Linked DNA regions of Homo sapiens. The protein of the gene in region 2 interacts with the protein of the main gene of each other region in a pairwise test. Each region holds a gene or a part of one and is shown on either strand. Other genes may lie near its edges.

The links.
Region 1: the proteins of UTP14A (region 2) and DYNC1I1 interact in binary tests that used the Homo sapiens proteins (3 or more experiments, as listed by UniProt).
Region 3: the proteins of UTP14A (region 2) and ATXN10 interact in binary tests that used the Homo sapiens proteins (3 or more experiments, as listed by UniProt).

The regions. Positions count from the first base shown.
Region 1 is NC_000007.14:95,775,094-95,783,669, reverse strand, and holds part of DYNC1I1 (cytoplasmic dynein 1 intermediate chain 1), read right to left. Parts: intron 1-8,576. UniProt on the Homo sapiens protein: Acts as one of several non-catalytic accessory components of the cytoplasmic dynein 1 complex that are thought to be involved in linking dynein to cargos and to adapter proteins that regulate dynein function.
Region 2 is NC_000023.11:129,900,870-129,910,264, reverse strand, and holds the start of UTP14A (U3 small nucleolar RNA-associated protein 14 homolog A), read right to left. Parts: upstream 4,102-9,395; 5' UTR 4,055-4,101; coding exon 4,029-4,054; intron 3,002-4,028; exon of another isoform or gene 2,899-3,001; coding exon 2,823-2,898; exon of another isoform or gene 2,206-2,822; coding exon 2,135-2,205; exon of another isoform or gene 1,712-2,134; intron 1,596-1,711; coding exon 1,531-1,595; intron 1-1,530. UniProt on the Homo sapiens protein: May be required for ribosome biogenesis.
Region 3 is NC_000022.11:45,842,374-45,846,923, forward strand, and holds the end of ATXN10 (ataxin-10), read left to right. Parts: intron 1-617; coding exon 618-805; intron 806-1,295; coding exon 1,296-1,298; 3' UTR 1,299-2,934; downstream 2,935-4,550. UniProt on the Homo sapiens protein: May play a role in the regulation of cytokinesis. May play a role in signaling by stimulating protein glycosylation. Induces neuritogenesis by activating the Ras-MAP kinase pathway and is necessary for the survival of cerebellar neurons.

The DNA of each region.
Region 1 (8,576 bases), on a different chromosome or scaffold from region 2:
TTTGTCTGTGTAACACTGATGTCTGGTCAGTCTGCAAATTGAAAGAAGTGATTATTCACTTAATTATTAATCACTACCCTTCTTTGAATCCACATTGTACTTTGTTATATCTCTGAGGCATTTATCCCATTTTAACATATGTGATAATCATTTGATATCTGATAACATATAACCACATTGTAGGTAATAAATTATTCTATTTTCCCTCTATTAGACATTGGCCCCTACGATCTGTAACTTTTTCATTTTCATGTGCCCACCAAGCACTCAGTCTCACTCATGGCTGGCATTCCATAAGTTCTAAATGAATATTCTTGACTAGAATTGAACAACTACGGAAGGAAGCTAATTTGCACCCCATATGTATTTCTTTTATTCATTATCAGTAAAATTTATATTTGTAAGCTCAGTTTTCTGGGAACCTGTTATTCCTTATGATGCTAAAATCATGCAAATGCATTTTATATTTTAATGGGCATTCATTCAGGTGTTAGTGATATGGACAGGAGGCAAGGAAATACTGGGTAGAAGAGGGTGGTTCCCAGCAAACGCTCCACCCTCAAGCCTGGAAACCAACGGCCCTAAATGGGAACAGGCATTTCTGTTTTCATGCCCAAATGTCGCCTTTTCTAAAACCACTCTGGTCTGCCATGCCCCCATCCTGTACCCACAAAAACCCCAAACCTCAGGCTCCATGAGCAGAAGAGTGGCAGAGTGGCAGAGAGGAGCACCAGAGAAGGATAGAAGAGAAGGGACATCTGAACATCGAGAGGAGTTCGGCTGGGGAAGGTCAGAGAGCTGACTGGCCACAGGATGGCTGAACTCCAGGGGCAGATCATCTTCCCACTCCATCCCCTTTCCAGCTCCCCATTCATCCCACTGAGAGCAACCTCCACCACTCAATAAAACCACTATGTTCACCATCCTTCAAGTCCATGTGTGACCTGATTCTTCCTGGATGCCGGACAAGTATGCAGGTACCAAGAGGACAGGGTTAAAAGGCTGTCACCTTATCTCTGCACAAGCTGGTTTAATACTTAGCCATCTACGGACAATAACTGCTAAAAGAGCATTAATTACAATGCATCCCTCGATGCTACCATGGGGCTGGGGCCCAAAAGTGCTCATTCTGGCTCCTGCACCTGCCTGTCTGCATGCTCCCCATCCCATACAGGGTTTGAGCATGCAGTGGCTGAGCAAATGAGCAACACCTCTATTGCAAGTCCCACAAATGGCTCAGGGAACTCTCCCAATTAACTTGTAGAGTTGGTGGCTGAAACCACTACATATGTGGTTACATATCAGTCAGTGTCCCTAGGGGTGCCCCATAGAGACTGTAGTTATTAGCAGGAATAGGCAGACTTCATGGAAGTCCTTCCCTTCCATAGTCATTTGAGTTTATTACGAAAATTCCAGTTCCCTTCCCATAGGACTACACTTAAGGATGCCACTGTAGTCAGGAATGGCCACACAACTGCTTTTGGCTCATGAAACATGAGTAGAGGTGTCATATGTCACTTCCAGGAGGTTTAATATGCAGTATGCAATTTACCACAGGGATTGTAAAAGTATATATCAAGAGGAAGCCTCATGCAGCATGGGCCTCTGAGTGAACATGGTGAACACAGACCCTTGTTGACCCACACTGGACATGTAACGTGGCCAAGAAAATTTTTTTGTTGTGTTGGTCCACTGAGGTTGGCAGTTATTTTTTGTTGCATCATGACACAGCCTAGCCTGATCAAATTCACTCCAATGAGTCGGAATTCTGGTTACTTTTCACCTTCCCTGACAGCGTTGACATCTTCAAGCACCCCTCCTTTACCATCCCCATCTTAAAGTGCTATGGAATGCCCCGTGAGGAGGGTGTAAAGAATAAGAAAGTACTAAATGTCATTATTAACCACACAGTCTCCAGAGCATGTGCCCTGGTTAAAGCAACTTTCTGTATTTTCCTCCAGGAAGTTTAGAAAACACTTTTTCCATGTGCTGCCCAGATCTGCCTTTCCAGCATTTGGGAAGGTAGCGGTGGTGTTGACAGTGTTATAGGGTGATGTTTCCAGTACCCTGACCCATCGTCAAAAATGAACTTTTGCCCAATTTACTGAGAAAAATGGCTCAGTCAGGGCAGACTATACCAGGGAAAGGGAGCACTCAAAGATAGTATATCTTCCTCCTCCTCGACAATAGTTTTGTAACCAACTTTTCTATCTACTTTAAGGTCTCTAATTTATTGTCTTAGAATTTTTTGAACTCACATTTCTTCATTTTTAAAAACAAGGGATACTCAAGGAAAATGAGCACAGTTCCCCTGGCTTTAAATTCTCTGGCATAAGATATGGGATTTCACCCTTGCTTGATATGCCAATTACTTTTCAGCAGCATTTGACAAATATTAAAAAGCTTAAAATAGGAGGCAAGAAAATGTGTAAATATTCAAAACCCCAAATCTGGCCTTTTACAGTGTCCCTGGGTGGTCCATATTTGCATTGGGAGATTTAGTTTGGCATTTTTAACTTACCCAAATAGATTCTCATTTTCCTCTGAGCCTGAAGGCATTCAAAGAGGGAGGATCCTCTTTCCAAATCAGCTGTAACCTATACCTTCTGAAAGTGAACAAAGTCACACTTTTCAAGGAAGCCGGCAGAGAAGGTTTTTTTTTTTGTTGTTGTTATTCTTTCTTCCACAAAATACACACCAATTCCCACAACCTCTTGCTATATTGATACTAACGGGCAGATGGTGAAACAGTAGACGCACGGTCGTTTTAAAAGGGAACATTGTGTCAAAACACACATTCCCCACAGGGCCTGCTTCCTTTTCCATCATCCAAACCCACCAACTGACATTCCACAAGTTGGTTCTGAGACAGAGTCTCAGGGTCATCCCCTGCACTCAGGCTCATTTTAACATTCAACAACTTGATAAACATTTAAAGACTTCCACATGGTGTGCTGTAGGATCTAAAACTGCATTCAGAAAGAGAGGACTTCTTTCCATTACAATTAGTGAAGTCTTCATCTTGACAAAGAAATGGGTACTATTTCAGGTCAGAGTAAACAATCTAGCATGTATTCTAAAAGGGAAAGTGAGGCCGGGCGTGGTGGCTCACACCTGTAATCCCAGCACTTTGGGAGGCTGAGGCAGGCGGATCACGAGGTCAGGAGATCGAGACCATCCTGGCTAACATGGTGAAACCCCGTCTCTACTAAAAATACAAAAAAAAAAAAAAAAATTAGCCGGGTGTGGTGGTGGGCGCCTGTAGTCCCAGCTACTCGGGAGGCTGAGGCAGGAGAATAGCATGAACCCTGGAGGCAGAGCTTGCAGTGAGCCAAGATCATGCCACTGCACTCCAGCCTGGGCGACAGAGACTCCGTCTCAAAAGGAAAAAAAAAAAGTGGGGGAAGTGATTAAGTGATTGTAGGCAAAGGATGTATAACATTGTGTCATCATTTATTCATTAGAATGAATGAATATTTCATTTATTCAATGAAAATATACTCATTACTTCGCTTCACTTTGGACATTAGAATAAAATATAAACCTGGTAAGGAATCAAAATGTCCCTTCTACCAGAAAGAAGCCAATGTACTGGACTGCTCATCGGACAGTGTCAGACCAAAGCCAGACGAAAAGGATTAGCCTAAGGGGTTCAAAAAGGAAAACACCAGATTCAAACCATGCTGCCCGTCATTTCTTCAATGAAATATTGTCCTCCTCAAGACTCCCCTTCCCCCAGCAGAAATGCTCTGCATGATCCTGATTCAGGAAAGCAAGACTTCCAGGATTCTAGGTATTACCAAGCACACATTCATCTTGGGCACAGACACAAAATGGGCGCTACATTTCAGGAAGTGAATGTTTTTACTAAACACATTAAAATGCTCCAAGGGGAAAAAGAACTCAGTCTTATAAGAAAAGGAAAATTAAGTAGGATTTATTCTGGCTAATATTTCAGGTCAACAAAAGCTTGTTGAGTATTCACCATGAGTAAGGTTCTCTGCTGGAAGACACAATGATGTCTGAAGGAGCCTAAAGTCTAGGAGAAATACGAACGTCAATGAGTAAATTCAAATCAAGACAATTTTTTGTTATAAAAAAACAAAGCATACCTTTGGTTCAAAGGAAGGCAAGATCACACACATCCCAGATAAACTAGAGAGTGACATAATTGCTGTTTGATCGTAAAAAGAATTATGGTATTTAGCATGTACCATGACTGGGGCCTGTACACTGATTGTCTGCAATCCTCACAATAACTTTGCAAGCCAGGCATCATTTTCCCCATTTTACAGACGAAGAAACTGAGGCTCACACAGTCAGTAAGTGGGATATCTGATCTCTTCTTCTCATTACTTTATCATGCCTCCTAGATGCTCTTAGATGTTGTGCTTTTTACTATCTTGTAAAGACAAAAAAATTGACTTAAATTATTTAAACAGGGAAGATTTCAATGAGAAAACTAGAACTTCTAAAGCAGAGTTTCATAATTTCGGCATCATTGACATTTTGGGTCAGATAATTCTTTGTTGTGGAAGCTGTCTTGTGCTTTGTGGCATGTTCAGCAGCAGTCCCAACCTCTACCCACTAGATGCCAGCCCTTTTCCCCAATTGAGATAATAAAAAATGTCTCCAGACATTGTCAAATGTCCCCTGGAGAAGACAATTGCTCCTGGCTAAGAACAACTGATCTAAAAACTTGCTGGGGTCAGGTGCAATGGCTCACACCTGTAATCCCAACACTTAGGAGGCTGAGGCAGAAGGACTGCTGGAAGCCACAAGTTCAAGACCAGCCTGGGCAACACAGCAAGACTCCATCCCTATGAAAAAAAAAATTTTTTAACCAGCTGGTGTGGTGGGACATGCCTGTAGTCCCAGTTACTTGGAAGGATGAGTTGGGAGAACTGCTTGAGCCCAGGAGTTGGAGTTGCAGTGAGTTATGATCATGCCACTGCTCTCCAGCCTAAGCAACAGAGTAAGACCCTGTTTGTAAATAAATAAATAAATAAATAAATAAAACTAAAAAGAAAAGAAAGCACTGGAATTAGCCCATCTTGTACTGAAAATCATTAAATAGAAGAAAGATAAAAGACAGCTATTCCCAGTCACCACTACTTGAGAGCAGAAAATGGGACCAGCCTCTGTGCAGCTCCTTCTGGCCCTACTCACCTCTAATTTGAGTCCCATACACAAAAGGCAATGGGCCTGACTGCCAGTAGCTGTGCCACACTGACCCATAACACACAGCACCTGTGCTAGATAAATGTGCAATCTTCAAACTGGCATTTGCATACCCCTGGCCTCCACAGTGGCTTTCTAAAGAGCCTGCAGGCAAGGGAAAAGTTAATGGCATTAATTTCCAGATCCGCAGCTTTTGCCTGTATGTTTTCCTAAAACTATCTACCGGAGAATGTGCCTGTGGTTGTAGAATTATTCGGGGCCCCTTTTTCCATCTCCATTTTCACAAAATGCCTTCTGCCATATAAGGTTAAAGACAAATATAAACTAAACAAACAAACAAAACCCCAAGAAATCCCAAATTTTACTGTGGTGCTTAACTGCAAGATATAAAAACATCCCTTTGTGAAAAGAGCTTCTTCACATACATTTTAAATTGAAGTTGGTATTTAGATTTTAATTGGATTCAAAGAATGATGTCACGGTTTTATTTTTAACTGTCAAAGTTTACAACATTCTGAAAATCACATTAATTGTGATTCTATAAATTTATGATGAAAAGCATTAGATGTAACCTTAAATGTGTGGAGGTGATGGAGCTGCAGAATTTTTAAAAAATTCTTGAGGGATTATAAAAGAGAAAAAAAAATGTTGGAAGAGCACTGAGTTAAAGCATAATGAAGCACACTGGAACGGTTACCAGGCAGGTCTGTTGATCAAGTACAATCGTCCTCTATAGTGCTTGAGATTCATTATTTTTATTATGAATACCCTCAACTCTGACCGAAATTTCTGCTTTGTGTGTTTGCCACATTGATGGCATTAGCTGTTCTGAACCCCCAAAATGAAACAGTGGGTTGTTCTATGCGATCATAGCAAGAATATAGGTAAGCGGAAAACTGTTAGCGCTTAAATAATAATTTGGAAGCAAGAACAGCTGCTAAAGAGGATTTCAAGACCAGTATGAACTGAAAACTAAAGAGCACGTAAGTCATCTGGTAAGTAGTGCCCCTCCCAGGATTTAGAAGCAAGTCAGTGTTCCGGATCATGACACAGCTGCTGTATCAGGGAAGCCTCAGAGGACAGAACAGCCTTAAAGTAAATTCATCTTTGCAGTGAATAAAGTTTTGATTTACAGTTACCCCTGCAAGATAGTTTTCAGGCTGTGTTAGGTGGGGGCTGCTGTGCATTTGGTACTCGGCAAGACACCTGGCGATGGGGGAAGCAAAAGTGTGGAGTTTCAACTCACCTTAAGTTAAAGCAGGGCTTGCTTTTCTTCTGCCACTCTGGGAGACATACAACTTGTTGTTGTTCCTTTGATAATATTTTAGGCTTTTCCTATCAGTGTGTGAACATATTTCTTGAGGGACTCTTAGTCCTGCCACAATAAAAAGCTACACTAAACAATACTTTTTTTGGTGTCCCACACAGGCAGAGAAACTATGAGCTATGGTAGGAAGAGAAGAAACAGACTTTGGAATCAGGCCCACCTGCATTTCAAATCCAGCCCTTCCACTATCTGGCTCCATATGGCCTTGACCAAGTGACTTAATCCCTCCAAGCATCTCCTTGTTTGTCAAAGAAAGAGAAAAATGTCCACCTTACAGGGATGTTGGGATGATTCAATGAACTAACACATCTATAAAGCACTGATTATGCACAGGGGAGATTCTCAATGAATGACAAGCCAAGCTAGGACTGCCTGCCACGCCTGGAGGCCTGACTCAGTTGCAGGCCTGACTCAGTGTCAGTTGATGTTTGCTATACCTGCCACCTGGACTCCTGGTGAAATGCCACAAAAATGTCCTGATAGCCAAGAACATTTTATTTTTGGCTGCCACTGGTAGGATAGCTTGGCTTTGTCTTCGATACATTTCAGCAGAGTGACCTCTGCTCCTCTCCCCTTTTTTAAACAGCATATGTAAACCAGTGATTCTTCCTGTATTTTTAGTTAGCAATATCCCCATTTTTTCCCTAGAAAACTACATTTATGCACAAATGCATGAAAATTTGCCTCAATTTTAGTGGGTTCAATGACCATCTGAAAACCATTCGTATGCCTCCCTTTTACAGTATCTATGGGTTTTTGTTTAAGAAGGTTCCTCCAACAAAGAATCAAGGATGTTTTATGAATATGTGAGCTCATGAGGATTAGCACCTAGGCAGAGGTATCTATGTTACGATGGAAACTTCACTCTGAGATTCTGGGGCCAGGCCTCACTCAGAGAGGAATCAAGGAACACAAGTCCAGGATATTGATGAAAAGTCTCTGTCAAGAGGAATAATTTTTTTCTTTTTTAAGACAGGGCCTTGCTCTGTCGCCCAGGCTGGACTGCAGTGGTGCAATCTCGTCTCACTGCAACCTCTGCCTCCTGGGCTCAAGTGATTGTCCTGTCTCAGCCTCCCGAGTAGCCTGGGATTACAGGCACGAGCCTCCAGCCTGGTCTCTAACTCCTGGCCTCAAGTGATTGGTCTGCCTTGGCTTCCCAAAGTGCTGAGATTACAGGTGTAAGCTACTGTGCCCAGTCAAGAGGAATAACTTTTACATGGACCTCGTCAAGGGTTTATACATTGCAAAGAAGAAAAATGAGAGTTGAATTAATTTGAGTTAACTCTCAAAACAAAAAAGTCAACTCTAGAAGTTCCTAGTTCCAGCACAGTTCCCAGGAGAATATATGTTCTCACATGCTCTAGGGGATGCAGAAGCCACAAAGATTTCTAGTAAAAGAGATCCCTGATTAAGGTAGCAACTATTTACACAGCATTTGAGATCCACAAAGTATAACAGCTACTTTCATTAAGGAGACAAAAACAATGCCATAATTTATTTTAAGGGGCCATGGGTCTACTTTGAGTGTGCATATATTATTCACAGTTACCAATCAACTGGCAAAAAGTGCGGCTATACTTGTGGCTTTAAGAAAATAACAATGGATCACACTGAAATTGGAGAGCAAACCTGAAAGATACAGACATACACTCGCTTTTTTGTCTCTCACACAGCACAATAGCCAAAATGGATGGGTCCTAGTTTTAGAGTCTTTGGAGAGATCTCATTTGAATCCTACCTCTGCCATTTATTAAATGATGTTGAGTATGTCATTTAACTCATTTAATTATTTGGAAAATATGGATAATAATGTCTACTTCATAGGATTAATATAAGAATTAAAATGAGATAAGAGAAGAGCTTGGTATTCAATATATGAAAATTAACCAGTGTAATTGTTTCATAGTACGGAAGAGAGAGGTTAAAACTCCTGGCCTGGAGTCAGGCCTTGATTCAAATGCTGCCTTGCTCAACTTAGTAGCTGAGCAAAAGTTACTTGACACCTTTGTGTCTTAGTTTCCTCATCTGTAAAACAGGATTACAAACAATATCTGCCTCATAAGATTTT
Region 2 (9,395 bases):
TAACCTCATATCAACCCCCACCCTCTAGAATGCTTTTGTCACAGGGGCCTCTTTCCTATTCTTCAACATGTTGTGCATGTTTCTACCTTAGAGCCTTTGTGCTAGCTGTTCCTTGGCCTGAAATGCTTTCCCCAATCTTTGCATGGTTGACTTGACTTGTCATTCAGATCTCGGCTTCAATTTTGCCTCTTCAGGGGCCTTTCATGACCAACCGATCTAAAGTAGCCACTTAGTTGCTTTACTGCATCATCCTCTCTTATTGTCTCCCTTCATTAGAATGTAAACCCCATGAGCTCACATCTTATTCGCTACTTTAACCTTGGTATCTACAACAGTTCCTGATACTGCTACCTAGTAGAAACACAATAAATATCCACTGAATAAGTACGCTTGGAATACATTGTTATTTGCCCTAGGAGGCTACACCAGTGATTACTACAAATGCAAGACCCATTCTAGCTGCCTAAGTTGTGAACAGGGTGAAAAAGATTTGGCATCTAGACTCAGTATTAGGATAAAATCCCATGGCTGCCGCTTATTAGAGCATGTATTCTGAACAGGGGCAATTTTACCACCCCGCCACCCCAGGGTGAAAATTGGTTCTTTCTGGGAGAGTATGAAAAAAATCTTAGATATTACAATGTTTTGTGTCCCTCCAAGGCTCAACTCTGTCCAACAAACTCTTATTCCTTAGGACTTGATTTCCTGGGGAAGGGGCACAGGGGGAGGGATACAATGAGGAAAAAAATGTCTTGAGGCCGCGCACGGTGGCTCACGCCTGTAATCCCAGCACTTTGAGAGGCTGCGGCGGGTGGATCACGAGGTCAGGAGATCCAGACCATCCTGGCTAACACGGTGAAACCCCGTCTCTACTAAAAATACAAAAAACTAGCCAGGCGCGGTGGCGGGCACCTGTAGTCCCAGATACTCGGGAGGCTGAGGAAGGAGAATGGCGTGAACCTGGGAGGCGGAGTTTGCAGTGAGCCAAGATCGCACCACTGCACTCCAGCCTGGGCGATAGAGTGAGACTCTGTCTCAAAAAAAAAAAAAAAAAAAAAGGCTTGAAAGGCTCCTCTCAGGGGAGCAATAAAAAAGCAAAGGTTGAGAAATACTGTACTAGGCAAAGGCCCTTGAATAAGTAATGTGACCTCTCTGAGCTCTGGCTGAAGAGAATATTTGCCTGTCTCCTAACTCAAAGCATTGTTAAGAGAACTGAAATAAAAATGAAATTGTACAAATATGAATTATGACTAAGTTACTAAGAGGCAGCTGTCTTTATTCATGTCCATCTATCCTATAAGTATCTCATCAAACTCTGTAGGATACCTTGACCACAGCCTTCTAGGCTTTCTTTGAGAGATGGAAGAAACTGAAGGGCATCTGACTACACTTCTTCACCCACTCTCCCAGGTATTTATGGTATGAGTCATTAACCACATCAAAAACAGTTCCTAGGGGGGGTGAGGTGAACACAATGCCCTTGGAACTCCACAGGTTTCATGCATGGGTATCTTCCTTTGTTCAACTTACCTTCAGAACTGACATTGAACTCTGACACCTTCAGACTAGCCTCAGACCTCTCAGCCAATTTCCGCCTGAAATTAGGCAAAACGATATAATAGGAATGAATAAATTTTATGGGGGCTTGGGGTTGGGAGAGACAAACACTTCTCTCTTCAAACAGGGCTTTGGTTTCTTGTATTTCTTCTAGGGTCATGTTTTGTCATGATGCAGCAAGGAGATCTGTTCCTAACTTGGACTTGGTTGTCTAACCCTCATCTCTTCTCTTTATTACAAGGTAAGCATAGTGGAAAACATATTGGACTTAGATTCAAACACACCTGAACCTGTAACTTATGAGCCAGGTGACCTTGGGGGTAAGTAAATTTATTTCTCTAATGGGGTTAAATAATGCCTACTCAATGCTTTAAAAGATTTTCAGTGTGGAATAAGACTGCAAATGCTTACAATAATAGCACTAAGACTAATAACAGCTAACAGTTAATTATATAATGCTTACTATATGCTAGGCACTGGTATTAAGGTCTTTACATGAAGCACTCAATAAATATTAGCTGCAGAGAAATCTCACGGAATTGACTATATAACCTGCCCTAACTGACGGGAACGTTACCTATTCTTTCCATCAAGGGAACTGATTGCTTCCAGAAGCTTTTGATGCTTTCTCTCTCCATCATTGTCCCCCTAAGACACAGAAAAGGAAAAACAATCAGGATGAGGGGGAGGGAAAAGACAACATGGAAATTGAGTCTCATGTAAAATCTCTTGTTATTTATTTATTTATTTTTGAGACGGCGTCTCGCTCTGTTGCCCAGGATGGAGTGCAGTGGTGTTATCTTGGCTCACTGCAAGCTCCGCCTCCCAGGTTCATGCCATTCTCCTGCCTCAGCCTCCCAAGTAGCTGGGACTACAGGCGCCTGCCACCACGCCTGGCTAATTTTTTGTATTTTTAGTAGAGACGGGGTTTCACTGTGTTAGCCAGGATGGTCTCAATCTCCTGACCTTGTGATCTGCCCGCCTTGGCCTCCCAAAGTGCTGGGATTACAGGCATGAGCCATCACCCGGGCCTGTTTTGGTTGGTCTTATAAATTATACTTATGCAACTTGAGGGTAGTGATTGTAACTTAGTTTCCAAATCCTCATAGCACTTAATATGATACAGTATCTTATATATGAAACACTAACCATTTGCAATTTATTTGAGAGACCTGAACAAATACATAGAACATTGTCACACCCTTCCATTCCAGGAATGTGCTCTCTACCCTAATTTTGAAGGCAGTTTAGCAATTGTCACCCACCTCATCTTCACTCTCACTCAAGAGGTAGTCTTTTGGCAAATCCGCTAGTTCTTCCTGTTGGCTCAAAGCCAGAAGGCTGTTAAAAGAGGCAACAGAGAAATGTGAATGCAATATACCCATGTAACAAACCTGCATATGTATCCCTTAATTATAATAAAAGTCGAAATTAAAAAAAGAAATATTATTATTTGAAGCAATGTCTAATCTATTAAAACAATCTCGAAAACATTGTAATTTCAGCACAGAATAGCCCTATCCCTCAGAAGATATATAAAGCAGCGTGAATGCCTTTGGAAACTTGTCAAGATGTGAAATTTAGACTGAAGTCAGGCATCACCTCCAAGAGTGATGCCTGACTTCAAAACTGCATGTAAAAGAGCTATCACTTTTCAGGGATTGGCACAACATTTCCTATGACCTATGGGAAGCTGTAAAAATGTCAGACCCTAGAATAATATGGCCAAAGACGCTGTTGCTAGCTAGCCCTGGAGGCAAGGCAGTTTCACGATTAATATTTCTAAGCATCCTCCATATATTTGACTCATTGATAGGCAGCCTAATCAAAAGTGTTATCTTGATCCTTGTTCCCAGGAATGGAGAAACAGGTCGAAAGCAGCTGGGTAAGCCACTTTCCCTGGGGCTTGCTTAGTAAAGTAGGTGCTTAACTAAGGAGATTGGTACCCACAAACAAATTATAAAATGTACCATTACCTAACAGCATATATTATTAGTATTTGCAAAGCCAACATTACTAAACGGACTACATTTAGTTCCGGGGGCGGGGTGGGGGGGGCACAAAACATCACAGGAGCCAAAACGTGGTGGATGACTCCAATCAGCAAAGCTTTCCAAGATTCGGGGAGTTTATAACGCCTGCACTGCCTGCGCAGAGGATTAAATCGGGCCGCGACAGAGGCAGAAAAAGGGGCCACGTGACGAAAAATGTGAAACACAGTAAATGAGCTGGGGAGGCAGAAACAGCATCAGGACCAACAGGGATGCGGCTATACAGCTGAGGAGCGGAGTAAGCGAATGAAATTAAATTAAAAGGGCTTTAAAGGCTGGATCGCGGAAAATAGGAACGAATGGCCAGCTCTTCAGGGGAACCACTGCCATCTGTTAAAGGGGGGGCTCCCATTTCCCAAAAGCTGGGGAACCCGGCCCCCAACGAGACCCAGAATCCCCCCTCCCCTCGTTGCCCTTCACCTCTCTGCAAGCCGGTTCGCAGTCATTTCAGCAGCCAGCTTCTCTCACATGGACCAAGAACGGAAGCCGAAGGAAAGCAATTTCCGTGCGGGCCGCAAAGCAATTTCTGTTTCCGTCAATCGCTCGCGACGTACACGTCACTTCCGTTCCGTACGAGGCGTGAGAGAAGCAGGAGCCGTGTAGGGAGGGGCCTGCAGAAAACTGGGAGGCCTGAGATGAAACGGCTGTCAGCGGGTGGGGCATTCCTTTCTCCACCCACCCCGTATTTCTCTGGCGCGCGGGTGTCTGTCCTCCTGGCCCCTGGTTTCCACGTGGCCCAAGGTGGGTTAGCTTAGGGCGACGGTGCTGCGCTCTCAGGGGCTGAGCCCGCGCCTTCATTCGTCACTGCAGAATCCAGAAGGAAAGACTACAGCGCCCGTCCTTGTGCGACGGCGTCCTGCAAGCCGACCACAAGCCAGCTCGGGGGTTTATTGAATGCCTATTAAGTGGCCAGATTGTGCCGGGCCCCGGAGATCCGATGGTGAACATAACAAGTTTCCTTCCATTTAAGGAAAAATCGCCTTTGATCCCTTGTAATTGCAGCTTTGTTCTTCATTTCCTGAGTCAAAAGATTTTTTTTATCCAAGAAGGGGCCATCAGTAACTACGCTTCCTCACCTCCCATCAACTTAAAAAAATTTTTTTAAACAACTTTTTTTCTCCCATCAACTTTTAAGAATTTTATTTATTTATTTTTGAGACAGAGCCTTGCTGTGTCGTTCAGGCTGGAGTGCAATGGCGTGATCTCAGCTCACTGCAACCTCCACCTCCCGGGTTCAAGCGATTCTCCTGCCTCAGCCTCCCGAGTCGCTAGGATTACAGGCACCCGCCACCATGCTCGGCTAATATTTGCATTTTTAGTAGAGACGGGGTTTTGCCACGTTGGCCAGGCTGGTCTAGAATTCCTGGCCTCAAGTGATCTGCCCGCCTCGGCCTCCCAAAGTGCTGAGATTACAGGTGTGAGCCACCGGGCCCGGCCTAATATATATATATATTAATTAATGATTGTAGAAAAATAATAGACAAGAACATTCTTTTCATTTTTTTTTTTTGAGACGGAGTCTCACTCCGTCGCCCACGCTGGAATGCAGTGGTGCGATCTCAGCTCACTGCAAGCTCCGCCTCCCGGGTTCACACCATTCACCTGCCTCAGCTTCCTGAGTAGCTGGGACTACAGGCGCCTGCCACCACACCCGGCTAATTTTTTTTTTTTTTTTAAGTAGAGACGGGGTTTCACCGTGTTAGCCAGGATGGTCTCGATCTCGTGACCTCATGATCCACCCGTCTCGGCCTCCCAAAGTGCTAGGATTACAGGCGTGAGCCACGGCGCCCGGCCCGTTCTTTTCATTCTTGTAATCCATTCCCATTTTGCTTTTGCCCCATTATTCCACAGAAATTGCTCTGGACAAGATCAGCGACACCCAAAGTTGCTAAATAAAACGGATACCTCTCAGTCTTTGGCTTCCCAGAACTTTGTGTGGCATTTAGTAACTGTTGATTTCTTTTCTTTTCTTTTCTTTTCTTTTCTTTTCTTTTTTTTGAGACGGAGTTTCGCTCTTGTTGCCAAGGCTGGAGTGCAGTGGCGCGATCTTGGCTCACTGTAACCTCCGCCTCCTGGGTTCAAGTGATTCTCCTGCCTCAGCCTCCCGTGTAGCTGGGATTACAGGCATGCGCCACCACGCCTGGCTAATTTTTGTTTTTTTTTTTTTTTTGAGACGGAGTCTCGCTCTGTCACCCAGGCTGGAGTGCAGTGGCACAATCTCAGCTCACTGCAACCTCTGCCTCCCTGTTTCAAGTGATTCTCCTGCCTCAGCCTCCCGAGTAGCTGGACTACAGGCACATGCCACCATGCCCGGCTAATTTTTTGTATTTTTAGTAGAGATGGGGTTTCACCGTGTTAGCCAGGATGGTCTCGATCTCCTGACCTCGTGATCCGCCCTCCTCGGCCTCCCAAAGTGCTGGGATTACAGGCGTGAGCCACCGCGCCCAGCCTAATTTTTGTATTTTTAGCAGAGATGGAGTTTCGCCATGTTGGCCAGGCTGGTCTCGAACTCCTGGCCTCAGGTGATCCTCCCACCATGGCCTCCCAAAGTGCTGGGATTATGGGCGTGAGCCACCGCACCCAGCCGATTTGTTTTCTTATTCATGAAATATTTTTGGCCATCTAGTATGTGCCAAGCCTCTAGGCATTGGGAATACATTGGTGAACAAAGCAGATATGTCCCATTGCTTCCTAGAGCTTACTTTCTAGTGGGATTAAAGACAATTTTGTCATTGTTGAAACTCCATCCTGAGATTTCATGACACCATTCTCTCCTGGTATCAGCCCTATGACCATCTTCCTCAGTCTTCTCTGCTGGATGCTTTTAATATACTTTTAATATGCTTACTCCCTAAATGATGATGTTTCCGAGAATTCTGCTCTAAGCCCTCTTTATTTATTACAGATACTCTTCCTAAGTGAAATTGCCTTTAACAGCTGTATGAGAACAAAATTTATATCTCTAGCCCTAATCTCTTTCTTGAGCTCCAGACTGGTATATCTGATTGCCTCCTGGCTATTCTTTTTGCCCCACAAGCACATCAAACATAAAATGACCAATAATTTCTATCTTTTCCACCAGAGTTCCTTTCCTGAATTTCCCATTTGTATGATTGGCCCATCAACTACCCAGTTAGTAAAATCAGAAGTCTGAGAGTCATCTTAGATTCCCCTCCCCCTTATGCTCCACAGCTGTTTGCCCACATTATCAGTTTTACTTCCCTGAGTCTCTTTCAAATATCTCCTTACCTTTCTCCATCATGTTTGCCATTGTATTAGTTCAGACCTTTGCAATTTGAAGCCTGTGGTATTGCAGTAATCTTATAGAAAGGGGGAGCATTATAGCATTTTCATACTCATGAAATATGAAGAATGAACGAATAAATACATTTCATGATGAAGAACCTGAGTTTTAAAGCTGGACTCTGGGATTGAATCTTAGCTCTGTCACTTACTAGTTTTATAATTTTTTGGGGGGGTTGGGGGAGACGGAGTCTCGCTCTGTCACCCAGGCTGGAGTGCAGTGGCGTGATCTTGGCCCACTGCAACCTCCACCTCCCGGGTTCAAGCAATTCTCCTGCCTCAGCTTCCCAAGTAGCTGGGACTACAGGCATACGCCACCACACCCAGCTAATTTTTTGTATCTTAATAGAGACGGGGTTTCACCATGTTGCCCAGGCTGGTCTCGAACTCCTGAACTCAGGCAATCCACCCGCTTCGGCCTCCCAAACTGCTAGGATTATAGGCGTGAGCCACTGTGCCCGACCTAGTTTATAATTTTTGAGTAAGTCCCTTAACTCTCTGTGCCTTTGTTTCCTCTTATTTATTTATTTAGAGACGGAGTCTTGCTCTGTCACCCACGCAGGAGTGCAGTGGCTCGATCTCGGCTCACTGCAATCTCTGCCTCCCGGGTTCAAGCAGTTCTTCTGCCTCAGCCTCCTGAGGGGCTGGGATTACAGGCATGCGCCACCGCGCCTGGCTAATTGTTGTTGTTGTTGTTTTTGTTTTGTATTTTTAGTAGAGACAGGGTTTTGCCACATTGGCCAGGCTGATATCGAATTCCTGGCCTTAAGTGATCCACCCGCCTTGGCCTCCCAAAGTGCTGAGATTACAGGCGTGAGTCACCCCGCCCAGGCTGTTTTCTCATCTTTAAAATGGGGATAATAGGCCTGGCATGGTGGTTTACCCTGTAATCCCAGCACTCTGGGAGGCCAAAGCGGGAGGATCACTTGAGCCCAGGAGTTCAAGACTAGCCTGAGCAACAGAGTGAGACTCCATCTCTATTTTTAAAAACAAATAAAAGAAAATATTTGGGAAAGAGCAACAAAGAAAAACCCAAAACAATACTAAGAATACAATAAAACAATATACAGTATAATTATTTACATAGCATTCACATTGTATTGGGTATTATAAGTAATCTAGAGATGATTTAAAGTATATAAAGGTCGGGCTTGGTGGCTCACGCCTGTAATCCAAGCACTTTGGGAGGCCGAGGCAGGTGGATCACCTGAGGTCAGGAGTTCAAGACCTGGCCAACATGACGAAACCCCGTCTCTACTAAAAATACAAAAATTAGCCAGGTGTGGTGGTGGGTGCCTAGAATACCAGCTACTCGGGAGGCTGAGGCTGAGAGAGTTGCTTAAAACCCAGGAGGTGGAGTTTGCAGTGTGCTGAGATCGCGCCACTGCACTCCAGCCTGGGCGACAGAGCGAGACTCTGTCTCAAAAAATAAAGTAAAGTAAAGTAAAGTAAGGTAAGGTAAGGTAAGGTGAGGTGAGGTGAGGTAAGGTAAGGTAAGGTAAGGTAAAGTAAAATAAAATAAAAAAAAACAAAACATGTATATAAGAGTATGTGCATAGGTTATATGCAAATACTATACCATTTTATGTCAGACTTGAGCATCTTTGTATTTTGGTATCCATGAGGGTCCTGGAACCAATCCTTCCCAGATACTGAGGGACAACGTATTTGTCACATATTAAATGCTTAACAAATGTCATAATAATAATAATGATTTTACTGACCTTTTAGTCTTTAGTCTCACTTCATCTAATCACTTAAGTTAGGCCACAGCATGCCCCTACTTAAAAGATGCAAATAGACCCTTATCGCCAAAATAAGAAAAACTCTCTAGTCCCTGTCAGCCTCTCCATCCTCTTTGAAACACTTGCCACTTCCCTCAGGGTACTCCAAATTATATTTTTATGGACAGATGATGTTTTCTTAATCTTATATAAAGTATGAATAAAAGCATTTTAGAAAACATTGACATTTTTATTGGTCTATACTTAATCTAAGTAAAGACAGTGTGTTTGCTATGCAAATGCAGCTTTGAGACAGATCCCCTAAGAATTCCCTCTTCACAGTTTTAATCAGATTGCTGCCCCTTTTCCCTCTTATGTAGAGTTATGGAACAGCCAATGCAATATTTTAGCTGAGATCTAAAGGATAAGAAGGAGCCAGTTTTGTGAAGAACTAGGGAAGAGTGTTCAAGGCAAAGAAAATAATGTGGGCTGGCCGGGCACAGTGGCTCATGCCTGTAATCCCAGCACTTTGGGAGGCCGAGAAGGGTGGATCACCTGAGGTCAGGATTTTAAAACCAGCCTGGCCAACATGGCAAAACCCTGTCTCTACTAAAAATACCAAAATTAGCCAGGCGTGGTGGCACGCCTGTAATCCCAGCTACTAGGGAGGCTGAGGCAGAATTGCTTGAACCCGGGAGGCGGAGGTTGCAGTGAGCCGAGATTGCACCACTGCACTCCAGCCTGGCGACAGAGCGAGAAT
Region 3 (4,550 bases), on a different chromosome or scaffold from region 2:
GCTTTCAGGAGCCTGAGTATTCAAACTAAACACAGCAAATCCTTCAAAGCCCTTCCAGCTTCATCTTTAGAATACTGAATGCGGGAAATTCCACAGTGACTCCTAGGAAACAATTCTTATTTCTAACTGGGCTCCCATTAAAACAAGATGATTTTCCTGATTCTAACCTGACGTCTTTGTGACTGATTCTTTAGTGCTCTTCTTATTCTTTCCCTAGTGAGTCAGTAACATAATTATTCAACAAAGGAATGTGTGTGTGTGCACGCACACACGTTTGCCTGTGTGTGTGTTCTTGGGTTCATAAACTTCAGTTTGAGCTACTCTAAGTCTTTGCTTCCTTGTTCATTCATTCAACAAATACTGAGTAAATCTCTCTGGGTGCCCGTGGCTGGACATCACACACACATGCTGGATGTACATGTGCATATGCCTGCGTTGCCTCTTTTTAATGTGTTTGCACTTGAGATGCATATTCAGAGAATGCATCCTCAAGAAAACTTGTGGATTGATACTGGATGTTCCGTGTTTCTGTGCTCCTCTACTCCTTTTCTGATAATTCTTATGTGAAGTTATCAAACAGGAAAGTACGTTGTCACATTCCTTCACTCTGGCTCCAGTTCTGACCCAGTGGGTGATATATGCCATCCGAAACCTTACCGAAGACAACAGCCAAAACCAAGATTTGATTGCAAAGATGGAGGAACAGGGGCTGGCAGATGCATCCCTACTTAAAAAAGTGGGTTTTGAAGTTGAAAAGAAAGGCGAAAAGCTGATCCTGAAATCTACTAGAGACACCCCTAAGCCAGTAAGTACCCTCGAGGGAACTGTCCTTCCCTTTGGTTTGTAGAAAGCTGTTTCCACTTCCCCATTGCTTCAAGCACGAGGCTCTTTGTAAGAATATGGATGGGAGAATTGTGCCCTCTATAGTGGTTTACCGAGGAAAGCCCTAAAGATAGCTGCAAACGGTTTTTTTGTTCCGGCTTTATGCTGCCATTTTCTTAAAAGAGGGACAATTTCAAACTCATTCTGGGTGAGAAATACAAAAGGCATATCAAAAGTTATACATGGTCTAAAAGTAAGTTACTCATAGGAATTAGATTTTCTTTAAAAGATAGTTAATGTTCACTATAGTTTAAAAAACAGAACTCCTTGAATAATATTGCATGAATTGTTTTAGGTTTCTCTAAGTTATTTGTCACCACTGACCAAAGTTCTGGGTTTTTTCCCCTTTTGTCTGATGAATCTTGTGAACAGATTTGCTACATCTGCAATTTTGTTTCTTTCTTCTTCTTTAGTGAATGAACTACATCCAAATACCTGAATTTTTGGAATCTGTTTCATGGATTTTTCATCTTCTACCGTATGTGAAATTGCAAGTGTTTGAAGATTTATAAGTACAAATTTGGGAACATACAAATCTTTTAGGTAGTAGAGTTTAACGTGTATAAGCTAAAAGTGAAAGTAACTGAGTGTTCTCTTGTTTCTTTGCATTAATGTAACTGTGTGGTTTGCCTTTGTCCCCCTGGATAGAACGTGCATTTAAAGAATATATTGTACTTACTGTGACAGCAGATAATAAACCAGTCTCTTGGAGGGCACAACCCTTATTTGACAAAACTTGGATGTTGGCTTGACTGTGTTTGTCCCTTCAGATGGCAAGTCAGCATCATTCTTTATATTCCTCTTCTCATTGGGTTTTCTGAACTCTGGCAGGCGGTTGAAGTAGTTTCTCACTGTGATTAATTCTAGCAATCTCTTTTCACCCCTCTGCCTTTCCAAAACATTGACAAGACTCATTTCCAGTTAATTAATTCGAGAACCCTCCCTCTTCATTTTGGGTACTGGGCTGTCTTGTCACTGAGCCCTATCCCTTTGGAATGTGGCAGGGAGTGAGGTTGGTGAGAGAACATGTGGGCACTTAACTCTTCATGTTCCAGTTCATCCCAGAAGTAGACATCCCAGGACCCATTCTGTGTCAAGGTGAATGCCTGTGTCCTCCCCAGCTTCATGCCTCTGTCATGGGGGAAGGAATAGCTTATGTTCTGCTCTGGTGCAGTGCCGTAGATTAAAGGTACATTTCTATCTTCTTTGATTTAAAAAGCACCAGTCTCATAAAGGTGCCACTCAGTTTTAGCCATGTCTTCACTGAAATTGCAAAAGTACTTTTAGGGAGCAGGAGTTTATTTGACATCTAGTTATCTGTCTGTCTGTTCATCTATCTATCTGTCTGCTGTATGAGAGGTAGGACTGGATTAAATGACCACTGAACTCACTGAATCCAGATCATTCATATCATCAACAAAAGCTCTAGGGGGAGGTCACGTTGTGAATGCTTAAAACATATTATTTTCTTCAACAACCATATCGCTAAACTAATATATCCAGAGATTTTGCACAATTCGTGTTGAACCTTCCAAAACAAAAATAAAGACCTGTCCAAAAGTTTTGACAAAAATACTGATTGCTCCCAAATAAAGTGCTTCTAAGCTTTGTGTAGACATAGTTTAACTGATTTGTAAAAATAGCTTAAGCATGTTGAGAATGAAGTAAAAGTTTTCCCATGTGCTGTCTAATGTACTCTGTGTAACTCTGAAGACACATCAGCTTCTAGGATTGCAGCAATCTATGAATAACATTTTTTCTCTCATTTATGACTTTCCATCAGTAAAGAAGCCATTGCAGAATTTAAAATTACACAAAGGAGTCATTCTCTCCTGGGACATAAAGAGTTAAAGCTCTGTCCTCTAAATAGAAGCCTGGCCAAAGGGAGAAAACAGTGGGAGTCCCTTTTCCCTTTTAACAAGTTTGCAATAGACACTTCTTTTTTTCCTGTCTCAATGGATGTGTGCACACCAGTGGAATCGCACAAACTTGTCGGTATGAGCTATATAATAACAAACACAAATAAATAAAAGGGAGCCTTGTGAGAATACAGAATGGGGTAATGGTTATGTGTTTTCTAAGTAGGAAGTGTGGGGCTTGCATAGTGAAAACATGCTGATGACTGCATTGTGGCTGCCTTTGATTCCCTCGGATGGATTAATTCTTGAGCACAACAGCTTCCCTGTCCTCTACCGTGGAGGACTCGGAGCTCCTGAGAACCTTGTTTTACATGCTATAGAGGATTAATCATCACCTCAATCAGTCATTTAGAAGGAAGAAAAAAGCAGGCCAGCCTTACAAAATTTGTAAAGAGACAGAATGGTCACAGCAAGTTTTGTGACCATATTATTGCTTTCAAGAGCGAGCTGACAAAGCTTTTAGCTGGCTTCACTTTAAAAGATAGAGGGGAAGGCTTCTCAGCTTGATACTGAGTCCAAGTATTTGCAGAGTGATTATTTTTTAATACCTTAACAATGGATGTGAAGATTTCAAAAATACTTATTTTTGCAATCTTAAAACAGTCGGCTCTCTGTATCCACAGATTGAACCAACTGGGGATTGAAAATACTCAGGAAAAATAAAATAGTAGTACAACAACAAAAAATAATACAAATTTTAAAATACAAGGTAACAACTATTTCCATAGCATTTACATTTTATTAGGTGTTACAAGTAATCTGGAGATGATTTAAAGTATGTGGGAGAATGCGGGTAGTTTATATGCAAATACTGTGAAGGCTCATATCAGAGACTTGAGCATCCATAGATTTTGGCATCCAAGCGGGGGTTCCTGAAACCAATACTCCACAGATTTCAAGGGCCAACTTACTAAACTGTTAGGATTTGTTAATATTTGTTCATTGTCCTCCTGCCCCAGCCGTGTAAGACATGCCTGCTTCCTCTTCTGCCATGATCCTAAGTTTCCTGAGGCCTCCCGAGCCATCCTTCCTGTATAGCCTGCAGAGCCATGAGCCAATTAAACCTCTTTTCTTTATAAATTATCTAGTCTCAAGGAGTTCTGTGTAGCAATATGAGAACGCACTAATACAACGTCCTGATTTTGTGGTTCTGTTCTTGTTTTTGTTTTTAGGAGCTAACATTGAGATGCATTTTTTTGTTGTTGTTCAGTAACTTCACAATCTAAGCATAGGGCTTTGGAAACTGCTAAAACATGTCATTTGCAAAATAGGATATAGAAAAAATGATTGAGATGATTTGGGCTACCAATTAATACGTCTTTAAATCAAATTTTTTTGTGTGCATCTTACATCCATTCTCTCTTGAAGTCATTCATGTGCTGCCCTGATAACACATGGCATTTAAGTGTTATTTAAATGATTTTTTTTTTTCGAGATGGAGTCTTGCTCTGTCACCCAAGCTGGAGTGCAGTGGCACAATCTCAGTTCACTGCAACCTCTGCTTCCCAGGTTCAAGCAGTTCTCCTGCCTCAGCCTCCTGAGTAGCTGGGATTATAATTTTTGTATTTTTAGTACAGATGGGGTTTCACCATGTTGCCAGGCTGGTCTCAAACTCCTAACCTCATGATCCGCCCTCCTTGGCCTCCCAAAATGCTGGGATTACAAGCATGAGCCACTGCGCCTGGTCTTAAAATGATTTTTTTACTGTCCTTTAGTTTCTGTCCTTGAATGAATAAACAAAGATGTTAG